3 separate regions of the Homo sapiens genome follow, and regions 1 and 2 are each reported to be linked to region 3. Evidence: microRNA targets listed by miRTarBase, many of them from high-throughput screens and not tested one by one. Region 3 holds a microRNA gene; each other region holds the end of a gene's coding sequence.

Region 1 (4,206 bases), not on the chromosome of region 3:
GGCAGGGCAGGGACCTTGCAGTCCACTACATGTTCCTCGGGATTTCCCCAGGAGCCACAGTAGGAGGGAAGTGTGGTTTACCTGGCCTTTGATTCTCTCCAGGTGAGGAAGAGGATGGAGATGAAGATGAGGAAGCTGAGTCAGCTACGGGCAAGCGGGCAGCTGAAGATGATGAGGTGGGTTCTGGCTTGAGAAGAAGGGGGGTTTGGCATCTGGGTCTCCCCACCTGCCTTTAGCTGAGGTGCTCAAGCTGCGGAGGGACTGTTTCTGACTTTGTAGGTGGCCACTGTGTGGTCCTGAATCTTAAGAACAGGAAGGAAACAGGGCTGGGCTCAACTTCCCAGAGGCCTTGGGCTGTGGAGCTGGGGGTCCCTGGTTCTTGCTCTGCCAGCAGGAGCTGAGGCAGTGGGCTGGATAGGGCTCCTGGGGTTGGAGGGGCCTTTGACAGTCTTTCTCTGCTTAGGATGACGATGTCGATACCAAGAAGCAGAAGACCGACGAGGATGACTAGACAGCAAAAAAGGAAAAGTTAAACTAAAAAAAAAAAGGCCGCCGTGACCTATTCACCCTCCACTTCCCGTCTCAGAATCTAAACGTGGTCACCTTCGAGTAGAGAGGCCCGCCCGCCCACCGTGGGCAGTGCCACCCGCAGATGACACGCGCTCTCCACCACCCAACCCAAACCATGAGAATTTGCAACAGGGGAGGAAAAAAGAACCAAAACTTCCAAGGCCCTGCTTTTTTTCTTAAAAGTACTTTAAAAAGGAAATTTGTTTGTATTTTTTATTTACATTTTATATTTTTGTACATATTGTTAGGGTCAGCCATTTTTAATGATCTCGGATGACCAAACCAGCCTTCGGAGCGTTCTCTGTCCTACTTCTGACTTTACTTGTGGTGTGACCATGTTCATTATAATCTCAAAGGAGAAAAAAAACCTTGTAAAAAAAGCAAAAATGACAACAGAAAAACAATCTTATTCCGAGCATTCCAGTAACTTTTTTGTGTATGTACTTAGCTGTACTATAAGTAGTTGGTTTGTATGAGATGGTTAAAAAGGCCAAAGATAAAAGGTTTCTTTTTTTTTCCTTTTTTGTCTATGAAGTTGCTGTTTATTTTTTTTGGCCTGTTTGATGTATGTGTGAAACAATGTTGTCCAACAATAAACAGGAATTTTATTTTGCTGAGTTGTTCTAACAAAGCTGTCTCAAGCCTGGTTTTTCTGTTTCAGTTTCTTCAGACCTTCCAGGGCACAAGGATAGGAGGGGGAGGATCCTGGGGACAGTGGGTTGACATTTTGGGAGGCAGTTGGATGTGTCCTGTGATGGGCAGCAGAGTCTGGTGGGTGGGCAGGGACTGAGCTGCAGTTGGCTGGGGGGGCTGCTCACTGGGGCAGTCAGTGATTGCCCCAAGAAGCCTTAACTGGGGAGGAGGACTTCATCACTGGGTGCCACATGGGGACCCTGGTGCCCTGGGGGTGGGGGTTTGCAGTCCTAGACACTGGAAACGGGCCACACGGGACTGCCATTATGTGGAGCGCAGGGTGCTGGTGGTATAGGCCAAGAGGGAACTTGCCAAGCCTCCCAGGATGAGCGTCCAAGTGGTGGCTGCCTCTGCAGGCCTCACAGGTTTAGCTCCATGACGTGGCTCCCCCTGCTGGTGGCACGTGGTACCCCCCGGCCTCTTAGAATGCCGGGGTTTTGGTTTGGCACTGGTGCAGCCTGGCAGTCATCCAACCTTTGGTCTCCAGGTCCCTTAGGTTAGTTGGGCAGGCCCACCCTGCCCCTTGAACACAGTTGGAGAAGTTACTGTGCCGTTTGGATATTCATACACGGGCTGTGAGCAGTGGGTCAGGATAGCCAACTGGAGGAAGTGCCACCAGCTCGTGCCCTCAGAGGTGGAGGTAAGGATTAGAGCTCACCTAGAACCTTCTGGGATCCTCCAATGAGAGCTGCAGGGGCAGGGGCCGGTATAGGCACTGCTAGTGGGCCTGTTGCCCAGGTAGGACCTGAGGAAGCCATCCAGTGGTATCTGCAGGAAAACTCCCAGGAGCAGACTGAAGTGTCTGCAGAGGCCTGGCCTGGGTTAAGGGGAGATGCTGGGAAGGAGGGAAATGTGTGCATTGAAGAGAGCAAGAGAGACCAGTTCCCTCTACCTGCCCCTTGACACCGTGTCCACCCCATTCCATGCCCCCCCGACCTTTGTGTTTCACACCAGGCACCAGAGTTCTGGGGGGACCTTTCCCTTCTCTGGCTGGAGCTTAGTCACTCTCATGGGGCTGCTCAGGCCGCTTGTTCAGCATGTCCCCAGGCAGCTGCCACCAGGATCGGGGGCAGGTTGAGGCCTTGGTAGGAGGGACCCTCTGACCTGTATCTACCCCACACCCCCTGCACAGCCTGGGTATCTGCATCCTGGCTCATCCAGGGAAGAAAGGGAGGGTCTGGAGCCAAAACGCTGGCTCCTCTCTGTTCTGCCGCCCAAGGCGACTCAGTACTGCAGTGTTCCCAAGCTCGGCGCCCAGGAGGGTGTCTCTAAGGCAGGAGTGCAGGCGAAGGCCGTGAAGGAAGGCCACACAGGGCAGGTAGCGCTTGGAGCTGAGAGCAGATCTAACCCAGCTCCCTCAGGCTGCAGTCCTGCTCGGGACCACTACCGCAAGGCCCCTGAAAGGGGAGAAGCTGTGCCCTGGTCCGCACACAGACACGGCAGGCATGTTAGCATGAGGCAAGTAACTGAACCTTGTGGGCTTCAATCCCCTCCTCTGCAAAATGGGAACAATAGGATGAGGCATGAGCCAGGGCCCAGGGCTGCCTTGCTAGGGTCCCCCTGAGACACCCATATCAGCAGAGCTTACTGCCTCTGCTGTCTGAGCTGCCTCATCCCACCAAAGGTTTGGCCTGGAACAGCATTTGCTGGTTCTAGCAGAACACACTTACCCCTAGTCCTGAGCCTAGCACACAATTAACCACTGCCTGAGGATATACCTCAGGGCCCAGAGTCACCTTGATACCACTCCCAAAGTCCCCGAATGACCTCCCACTGGAGCCCAGGTTAAAAGATTATCAAGGAATGGGCGCCCCCTGGTGGACACAGAGGAACTGTAAAGCGTGCCGCTGAATTCTGTCCAGGAAAGACCCTTCAGTGGGCCCTGGTCCCAAGGTAGGCAACGCCAGTCACCCTCCACCTGACTCCCGCAACAAGACCTTTCTCCCTCTCTGTTGCTGGAACCCCAGTCAGATGTGACAGTCAGTGGTCATTTCCCAGACCTTCCTTCTGGGCAACTGATGCCCTCTCCCAAGGACTGAGTCCTTTACGTGGAACCAAAGCTGGAAGCAGGGGTCCACTCTTCCACGGTCTTGGGCTTCCCTGTGGCCACACACACCCTCACTGGACTCCACGCACCCTCACTGGACTCCATGCACCCTCACTGGACTCCATGCACCCTCACTGGACTCCATGCACCCTCACTCACTGGACTCCATACTGCCTCAGCAGACTCCACACTCTCTCACTGGACTCCCTGCTCCCTCACTCACTGGACTCCACGCACCCTCACTCACTGGACTCCACGCACCCTCACTGGACTCCACGCACCCTTACTCACTGGACTCCACACATCTTCACTGGACTCCACACATCCTCAGTGGACTCCACACATTCTCACTGGACTCTACAGACCCTCACTGGACTCCACGCTCCCTCACTGGACTCCACACTCCTTCACTGGACTCCACACACCCTCACTGGGACTGCTGCCCTGAGTACAAACTAGGAGAGTTTGAATGGGGGGTGTTCACTAGAATGACTAGAATGACTCAGTCACTAGAATGGGGGGCGGGGAGTCAGGGGCTCCCAGCTCTACTTCCTGGCTTTATCTTGGCTGTTGGCTACACAGCCCCAGGAATCAGTACTGCTTCTCCTCTACTGCTATCACAAGCCCTGGGGTCAGGATCCTCAGCCTCTGGCCCTTCCTAACTCCTCCCAGATCTCAGTCCCTCCAGGGCCCTGCTGCCTACCCTGCCTCTACCAAGCCTGCGGGTTGGATGCCTGTGTCCTAGATACAGGCCAGCCCTGCCTGCCTCAGGGCGCTGGCTGCTGCGTGGTCCCCTCCTGGTGGGAGCTGCTTCATGAGGGTGGAATCCCTGGGCCCCGTGTTATTTGGGGCCTGCTTCAGTCTGGCTGGGCCTCACAGGCCTGGCCCCCCGCTAT
Region 2 (4,206 bases), not on the chromosome of region 3:
TTACTTTCCTCTGTGGCATTTATACCCTGACATCTTCTACATATTATGTTTTTTCCAACCTACTAAACTGAAGTTAACTTTTGTTACACCCTGCTATATTCCAGACCTAGAAAGAACATTGCCTTGTCCTTTGGAGGTGTTCAATAATGAATGGAAATTAAGTTATTGAGATCAAATACATATCCCAAAAGTATATTTTTGTTTGTTTGTTTTTTGTTTTTAGTATAGACGGGGTTTCACCATGTTGGCCAGGCTAGTCTCGAAATCCTGACCTCAGGTGATCCACCCGTCTCAGCCTCCCAAAGTGCTGGGATTACAGGCGTGAGCCACACTGCACCCGGCCAAAAGTATAATTTAATAGTGTCAGCCTAGTTCACACCTGTAATCCCAACACTTCGGGAGGCCGGGGGGCAGGCGGCAGGGGGGATCCCTGAGGTCAGGAGTTCGAGACCAGCCTGACCAATGTGGTGAAACCCCGTCTCTACTGAAAATACAAAAATTAGCTGGGCGTGGTGGCATGTGCCTCTAATCCCAGCTATTTGGGAGGCTGAGGCATAAGAATTACTTAAACCCAGGAGGCAGAGGTTGCAGTGAGCCGAGATGGCACCACTGCACTCCAGACGGGACAACAGAGCAAGACTCCATCTCAAAAAAAAAAAATACATAAAAAATAGTGTCAAGTGAGAGAATATTTATCTCCATCTGAATTCATTGTAATGTTTTATGTCTGATTTTTAGAGTGAAGATGAAGCTGGATGTAGCTCAGTTGATGAAGAAAGTTACAAGACTCTGAAGCAGCAGGAAGAAGTATTTCGAAATTTAGATGCTCAGTATGAAATGGCAAGATCACAAACCCACACACAAAGAGGAATGGGTTTGGGTTTCACATCTTCAATGCGAGGAATGGATGCAGTTTGAAAATGATCACACTTGTAAAGTTTGGGACTTATAGACTTCTTGTTCTGATGTCACGTCCTTGTTCACCAAACAGCTAGCACTCTAGCTTGCATGGGTGTTGCATTGACTTTAATTTATTGAAAAATACAAATTTTTGTAAATATCAGATCAGTGATACTGGTGTTAGTGTTGTAATCAGGTTAAACCCACTTCCATTAAACTTGACAGGACTATAGAAGGATAATATTTTTTAGTTCATGAATTCTACTTTTCAAATATATAAAAGCTGCAGGTGGGGATAAAATCTCATACATGGATTTTTTCGTGTCCGCTGTCTTGTGTACTTTTGTACTTAACCTTGTACAGTTATTTTCATCTCTTGAAACATGAAAGAAATGTTATGTAGATGTTCTTTAGAAGATCTGGCCATTTGGTACATAATCCAGCACAGATAAGCTGGGTGGTAATGATAATAAAAATGGTTTTCTCAAAACTGGTGTTAATTTAAGTTACCTGGGATGTTTCTTTGAATTTGTTTTATAGTTTCTGTAGCATTTGGCAATTGCTGTTAGAAAACACTAGCTAGAAATCCCCTCCCCACCACCCTTTTTAAGGCCAGTTAACTATACTACAGTCAATACCGTGGTGAGCAAAAATGTAAAAGGTGGAAGGAGAAAACTTACTAAAATAGTATGTTTTCCTATTATAAGGGACAGACTTGGTATTCAGTATTTGTCAAATATTACATGTGTTATTCAGGAGATAGATTAATGCATTAAAGGGATGTAAGCACTTTTATTTTAATAAAGTGCCTTATAACAAGTTCTTTGCATGCTTTTTGCTCATTATCCCTTTGAAGTCTTCTCCAGCATAGACTATAAAATATTAAAATATTAGAAATTTTTTTTGTTTGTTTTTTTGAGACAGGATCTTGCTCTGTTGCCTAAACTGGGTGCAGTGGCACAATCTCGGCTCACTGCCAGAGCCTCTGCCCCCCAGGTTCAAGCAATTCTCCCACCTCCACCTCCCATGTAACTGGGATTACAGGCGTACCACCGCACCCAGCTAATTTTTGTATTTTTAGTAGAGGTGGGGTTTTACCATGTTGGCCAGGCTGGTCCTGAACTCCTGACCTCAGGTGATCCACCCTCCTCAGCCTCCCAAAGTGCCGGGATTATAGGCGTGAGCCACTGCAGCCAGCCTAGAAAATGTTTTGTTACTAGATTGAACATAAATCTGGAGCCAAGGGGTGGGGGGGGCCTGCAAAACTTGAAGTTAATTTACTTCAGTTACAGCAAAGTAATAAGGTTTGGCTTTCCTTTGAAAAATCCTTTGGAAAACATCACAGAATGAGAGCACATTACAATCAGGGAAGACTACAGGAATAAGATTGACAGCCTTATTTTAAAAGCTGGAATTAAGTCTTGCCAACTTGCTCATTAGGTATTTTTTTTATACATGAAAATGAAGTAATGGGGTGTTTTCTTTTTTTTTGCTTTCTGTCCTAGGCTGGAGTGCAGTGCATTGCAGCAGGCTCCCCCAGGCTCAAGCAGTCCTCCCACCTCAGCCTCTTGAGTACCTGGGACCACAGGTGCTCACCAACACACCTAGCTTGTTTTTAATTTTTTATAAAGACAAGGTCTTGTTACGTTGCCCAGGTTGGTCTTGAATTCCTGGCCTCAAGCAATCCTCCCACCTCAGGGCTCCCAAAGTGATGGGGTTACAGGTGTGATCCACTTCACCTAGCCAGATTGTAAGATTTTTAATGTACTTTAATAAACCTTTCATTTTCCCAGAGCACAGAAATTCTATGGCAAAATGGCTTTTCACCGTGTTTCAGTGACAAATCTAAGCCTTCTAAGGAAATGACACTATGGATCCTTCATTTCGTGATCATCAACATTTTTCAATTAAGCTCTGCCTTTTTAAATCAATCTTATTAAAAATGTTCATGACCTTCTAAGGCAGTGTGGACGCAAAAGCTTCCTGTGTGTCTACAGTTATTTTAGGAGCTGACCATACATGATGAGTGATACAGCCTGTACTTTGCTCATCTAGAGCAGCACTGTCCAATAAAATATGTGTGTATATGTATATTGGTCCAAGTGATCTTCCCACCTCACTCCCCTGAGTAGCTGGCACCAAAGGCCCATGACAATGTACCTGAGATGGGGTTCTCAGGCTGTTGGCCAGGCTGGTCTCCCACTCTTGGCCTCAAATGATCTGCATCATCTCAGCCTCCCAAAGTGCTACCTGGGATTCAGGTGTGAAGCCACAGTGCCTGGCCTAAGTATTTTATTTCAATTTCTTTTTTGAGTAGCCAAATGCAAATAATTAAAAGATGAAATTACAGTTGTCCCTTGAACACATGGGTTTGAACTTTAGGGTCCACTTACATGCAGAATTTTTTTTTCTTTTTTTCTTTTTTTTTTTTTTGTGAGAGACTCTTTTGCCCAGGCTGGAGTGCAGTTGCATGATCCTAGCTCACTGCAACCTTTGTCTCCTGGGTTCAAGCAATTTTCCTGCCTCAGCCTCCTGAGTAATTGGAATTACAGGCACCCGCCACCACGCCCGGCTAATTTTTGTATTTTTCGTAGAGACGGGGTTTCACTATGTCAGCTAGGCTGGTCTTGAACTCCCGGGTTACACCATGTTGGCCAGGCTGGTCTTGAACTCCTGACCTCATGATCCACCCGCCTGGGCCTCCCAAAGTGCTGGGATTACAGGCGTGAGCCACCACGCCAGGCCTCATGCAGATTTTTCAGTGAAAGTAAACCTGGGAGGCGGAGGTTGCAGTGAGCCGAGATCATGCCACTGCACTCCAGCCTGGGTGACACAGTGAGACTCTGTCTCAAAAAATAAAATTTCAAAAAAAAAAAATTTAAATGGCCAGGCACAGTGGGTCATTCCTGTAATCCCAGTATTTAGGGAGGCAGAGGCAGGAGGATAGCTTTAGCTCAGAAGTTCAAGACCTACCTGGGCAATATAGGGAGATCCTGTTGTCCACAAAAAGAAAAAAAAAATGTTAAAATGTGTAAGTGACTTCCCAATGTTGTAAACGGAAAGAGGCTTCCTTAAGGGCCTTTGAGCACTGACCTAGCAGTGTTCCAACCTCATCTTGCTCCACTCTGCCTTTTCACTCAACATGGTGGTCCTTACACCTAAGACACTCTTCCATCCTCCCACCCCCAACTTTGCCGATCCTTAAAGTCTCACTTCCTCACTTTACTGACTCCCACAGACTAGGGTGTTTGTTAAATATTCATAACTTCCTGTGTTTTTCACCTTTTTTTTTTTTTTTTTTTTTTT
Region 3 (4,206 bases):
GAGTGCAGTGGCATGATTTTGGCTCACTGCAACCTCCATCTCCCAGGTTCAAGCCATTCACCTGCCTCAGCTTCCCAAGTAGCTGGGATTACAGGCATGCATCACCATGCCTGGCAAATTTTTGTATTTTTAGTAGAGACGGGGTTTTGCCATGTTGGTCAGGCTGGTCTCGAACTCATGACCTTAGGTGATCCACCCGCCTTGGCCTCTCAAAGTGCTGGGATTACAGGCATGAGCCACCGCACCTCGCCGGATTTTTTTTTTTATAACACCTTTCTCTCTTCTATTTTTTTTTCTGATAACATTCTTTCAGTTGCATACAGTGTGCAAAATTAAGATGTCCAAGAGTTCGGCTAGGCGTGGTGGCTCACGCCTGTAATCCCAGCACTTTGGGAGGCCGAGGCGGGCGGATCATGAGATCAGGAGATCGAGACCATCCTGGCTAACACGGTGAAACCCTGTCTCTACTAAAAATACAAAAATTAGATGGGCGTGGTAGTGGGTGCCTATAGACCCAGCTACTTGGGAGGCTGAGGCAGGAGAATGGTGTGAACCCGCAAGGCGGGGCTTGCAGTGAGCCAAGATCAAGCCACTGCACTCCAGCCTGGGCGACAGAGCAAGACTCTGTCTCAAAAAAAAAAAAAAAAAAAAAAAGGATGTCCAGGAGTTCAAAAACATGTCCAGAGACCTGTCTGTTGTAGGAGAAAATAAAAATTAGAAATAAGAGGCTTTATTCTCCTATGTGAAAAATAAGGGAGGATATTTTGCTAATCTCTTTTTTCTTAAAGGATTTAAATTATACATAGATTTTTGTCTTTGTTGTTTTGAACGATACATAAATTATATTAACAGCTAAATAAATTTTTGGTCATTGTTCTTGATTTGGGATTGTCTTTATCTGAGACCTCAGGTTTATTGCTTTGTTTTTGCTTTGGCAAATTTTTTAAAATTTTTTAATCTTTTAAAGTAGACACAGATTTGTTTAAATCAAAACTCATTTTAAGAGCACACAAAAGTTGAGCACAAAGATAGTATTAAATTTAGCAGTACTGAATAATGAGGACTAAAAAATGCTGAGTAAATTCCTTTGACAGAAAATGGATTATCCAACGTAATTATCTAATATTTGCAGGCTAAAATACTTCCATTGCAAAAGCGAGGTTCAGTGTATGAACCGAACAGTGGAGTATGTAGTTGTTCTTTGGTTTCTATTTATTACTTCAGAACAATTAGCATAGTTAGGTGTAGCATTTGTAGACAAACTGCATTCATATCAATTGAACAGTATTTTCTACACTAGTATAAATGTAAGGCCACAATATTTACTTTGAATGAATCCCTTAGTCATTTTAGTATTGTTATTCATACTTTCAAAACATAAAGTGTTTTAATTGAATTATGGTTACAGACAATATTTTAAAATCCTACATACATTATGACTAGTACACTAAAATTATTTATACTTAGGTATTTTATCCAATGTGAAAGAAAATTTACTACCAAATTATTATAGTAGATATTAGTATGATATGCTTACTAGTTTATTCAATAGAGATAATATTAGGGAAGCATGATTTTAGTGTCTTTTATTTCACTAAATTGGAATGCTGCTATTACAAGACAAATAAGGGTGATGTGGCCACTCAAAAACCATAATAGCTCTTCACTTAGCCATGATGCAAGCTCAAATATATTCCACTATATTAACAAAGTCATATTCCAATTGTTCATCAAAATGTTTTGGTGGAAATTGTCAGGCATATTCCAGTATAGATCTCCCATTCAATGGCTAGAAGATAAGAGAGCAGCAGAGATGAAAGAGGAACCTTACTTTGTGTTATGGTGTAGTCTGGATTGAAGAGACGACCCAAGCAGGCTTTGTGTGAGCAGTGAGGCTATTTATTCACTTGGGTGCGAGCTCACACGAAGCCTGCTTGGGTTTTCTCTTCAATCCAGACTGTGCCATAACACACATTTGATGCTGAAATCCGGGATAGGGGAACTCCTTTGGGAGTCGTGTCCCTTAACCCCTTCCCCCGACTTCTTGAAGAGACCCACCCGCGACCTCGGTACCTCGGACCAGCTCTGTAAAAGCCCCGCCTCTGCCTTCGGATAGGTAAGAGACCTCCATCCTTTCTCAAACTTTCCTTTTCTTAGAGAGGAGAGGACACTCACTGTCTGTGTTTCCTAAATCTAACATTGGTCATGGATTATCTCTGGGAAGACAGGCTTCCCTAGGTGACTGGTCAACCACAGGGACATGTGCCTTGGCCACTCATCCACTGCACAACCCAGATGGGGACACCTGCTGAAGGTCCTTGTGGTTGCTCTCCTCCTCGTTTCTCTCTCCCTGTCTCTCTGTTTCTTCAGTCCTCCGCTGTTCATTATGGGCACCCTTCCACCCTCCATTCCTCCTCCTTGTCCTTTGGACTGTGTCCTTAGGAATCTAAAACCGCTCCGTCTTTCACCTGATTTGGAACCTAAACATCTCATTTTCTTCTGTAATATGGCCTGGCCCCAATATAAATTAGACAGTGGCTCTCAGTGGCCAGAAAATGGCACTTTCAATTTCTCTATTTTGTGGGACTTAGACAACTTTTGTCACAAAATGGGCAAATGGTTTGAGGTTCCATACATCCAGGCATGTTTTACACTTCGGTCCCTCCCCAGCCCTTGTTCCCAATGCAATTTGTCTCAAATTCTCCTTCTGTCCCGCCCATCTGCTCCCCTACCACCCTCTGGCGACAGCGAGTCCTTCTTGTCCACAGACCCTTCCGATATTTCTCCTCCCTGCCCGTCCGACTCCGGTCCCAACCCTTCTCCAGACCCCAGTCCCCCTTCTACCCATACCATGCCTCCCTATATCCCTTCTGTCCCTACTCTGCCCCATACCCGAACTGGCTGACAATTTGGTCCCACTTCTAATCCCCCTCCTCCCACCCCACTATTTCCCCTTTGAGAGGTGGCTGGAGCTGAAGGGATAGTCCGAGTTCATGTTTCTTTCTCCCTGTCTGACCTGTCTCAGGTCAGCCAGTGTTTAGGTTCTTTTCCATAAGACTCCACTAAATATATCCAGGAATTTCAATATTTAACTCAGTCTTATAACCTCACCTGGAGTGACTTAAATGTCATCCTCACTTCTACACTCACTCCTGAAGAATGGGAGGGTGTTTGGGCCCTAGCTCAGTCCTATGCAGGTGACCACTGGCGCCTTGAGCCAGGTCTCCAGGGAGGTCCCCCGTGAGGACCCCCAGTGGAACTATCAAACAGGATCTCCTGGTATGGCCGGGCGAGATTATATGATCACTTGCTTAGTAGAGGGACTCCAAAAAGCTGCGTATAAGGCTGTCAATTATGATAAGTTAAAAGAAATCACTCAGGGCAAGGACGAAAATCCAGCCCAGTTTGTGGCCCATCTGGCCATAAATCCAGCTTTAGACCCTGAAGGGCCAGGGGCCAGAAGGCCGACTCATGCATTTTATTACCCAGTCAGCTCCCGACATTAGAAAAAAACTTCAAAAATTAGAGTCTGGCCCTCAAACCCCACAACAGGATTTAATTAACCTTGCCTTTAAGGTGTTCAGTAACAGGGAAGAGGCTACCTGGTGGCAGCGTGTTTCTGAATTACAGATGCTTGCCTCCGCCGTAAGACGAACCCCAGCCACACCAATGGCCTGTAGGGATTTCAAGGCATCCAGACCGCAGCGCCCAGCAGCCCCTCCAGGGCCATGCTTCAAGTGCCATAAAAATAGTCACTGGGCCAAGGAATGCCTGCAGCCTGGGGTTCCTCCTAAGCCATGCCCTGTTTGTGCAGGCCCTCACTGGAAGTCAGACTGTCCAACTCAAGCTGCCATCCCTAGAGCTCCTGGAGCTTAACCCCACAGCCCCCTGGCTGACTCCTTCTCTGATCTCCTCGGCTTGGCGGCTGAGGAATGACACTGCCCGAACACCTCGGAGGCCCCATGGACCATCATGGACCTCGGGTAACTCTTAAGGTGGAGGGTAAGTCCATCCCCTTTTTGATCGATATGGGGGCCACTCACTCCACCCTGCCCTCCTTTCAGGGACCTGTCTCCCTAGCCTCCATGACTGTTGTGGGAATTGACGGCAAAGCCTCCAGACCTCTCCAGACTCCACTTGTGTGTCAACTAGATCAGCACTCCTTTTTGCACTCCTTTTAGTCATCCCCACTTGTCCAGTCCCTCT

What was found. The annotated mature microRNA hsa-miR-6839-3p reads UUGGGUUUUCUCUUCAAUCCAG and lies in region 3 at 1,935-1,956, shown strand. An mRNA with a match to its seed (bases 2 to 7 or 8) in the 3' UTR can be bound and repressed. Matches are read on the target gene's strand: a 7mer-m8 pairs with bases 2 to 8, a 7mer-A1 pairs with bases 2 to 7 and ends in A, and an 8mer does both.
Region 1: the mRNA of PTMA is a reported target of hsa-miR-6839-3p. Seed matches in the 3' UTR shown: 7mer-A1 at 676-682.
Region 2: the mRNA of RSRC2 is a reported target of hsa-miR-6839-3p. Seed matches in the 3' UTR shown: 7mer-m8 at 1,100-1,106.

What each region holds. Positions count from the first base shown.
Region 1 is chr2:231,712,341-231,716,546 of GRCh38, forward strand. It overlaps PTMA (prothymosin alpha), which reads left to right. Exons shown (of 5, transcript NM_002823.5): 4 at 103-176; 5 at 464-1,211. The coding sequence ends at 511. MIR1244-1 (microRNA 1244-1) reads left to right here and starts at 974; the gene lies at 974-1,058. RefSeq lists enhancers at 1-359, 2,162-2,321, 2,331-2,860, 2,861-3,390, 2,952-3,191 and 1 more and a silencer at 2,379-2,673.
Region 2 is chr12:122,502,239-122,506,444 of GRCh38, reverse strand. It overlaps RSRC2 (arginine and serine rich coiled-coil 2), which reads left to right. Exons shown (of 10, transcript NM_023012.6): 10 at 739-2,991. The coding sequence ends at 918. Among named protein-coding and RNA genes, the nearest start is that of ZCCHC8, 3.4 kb to the right of the region's middle. RefSeq lists a silencer at 2,176-2,376.
Region 3 is chr7:64,677,221-64,681,426 of GRCh38, forward strand. MIR6839 (microRNA 6839) reads left to right here and starts at 1,844; the gene lies at 1,844-1,956. All of the region lies in intron 1 of ZNF107 (zinc finger protein 107), which reads left to right. It also overlaps the pseudogene BNIP3P11.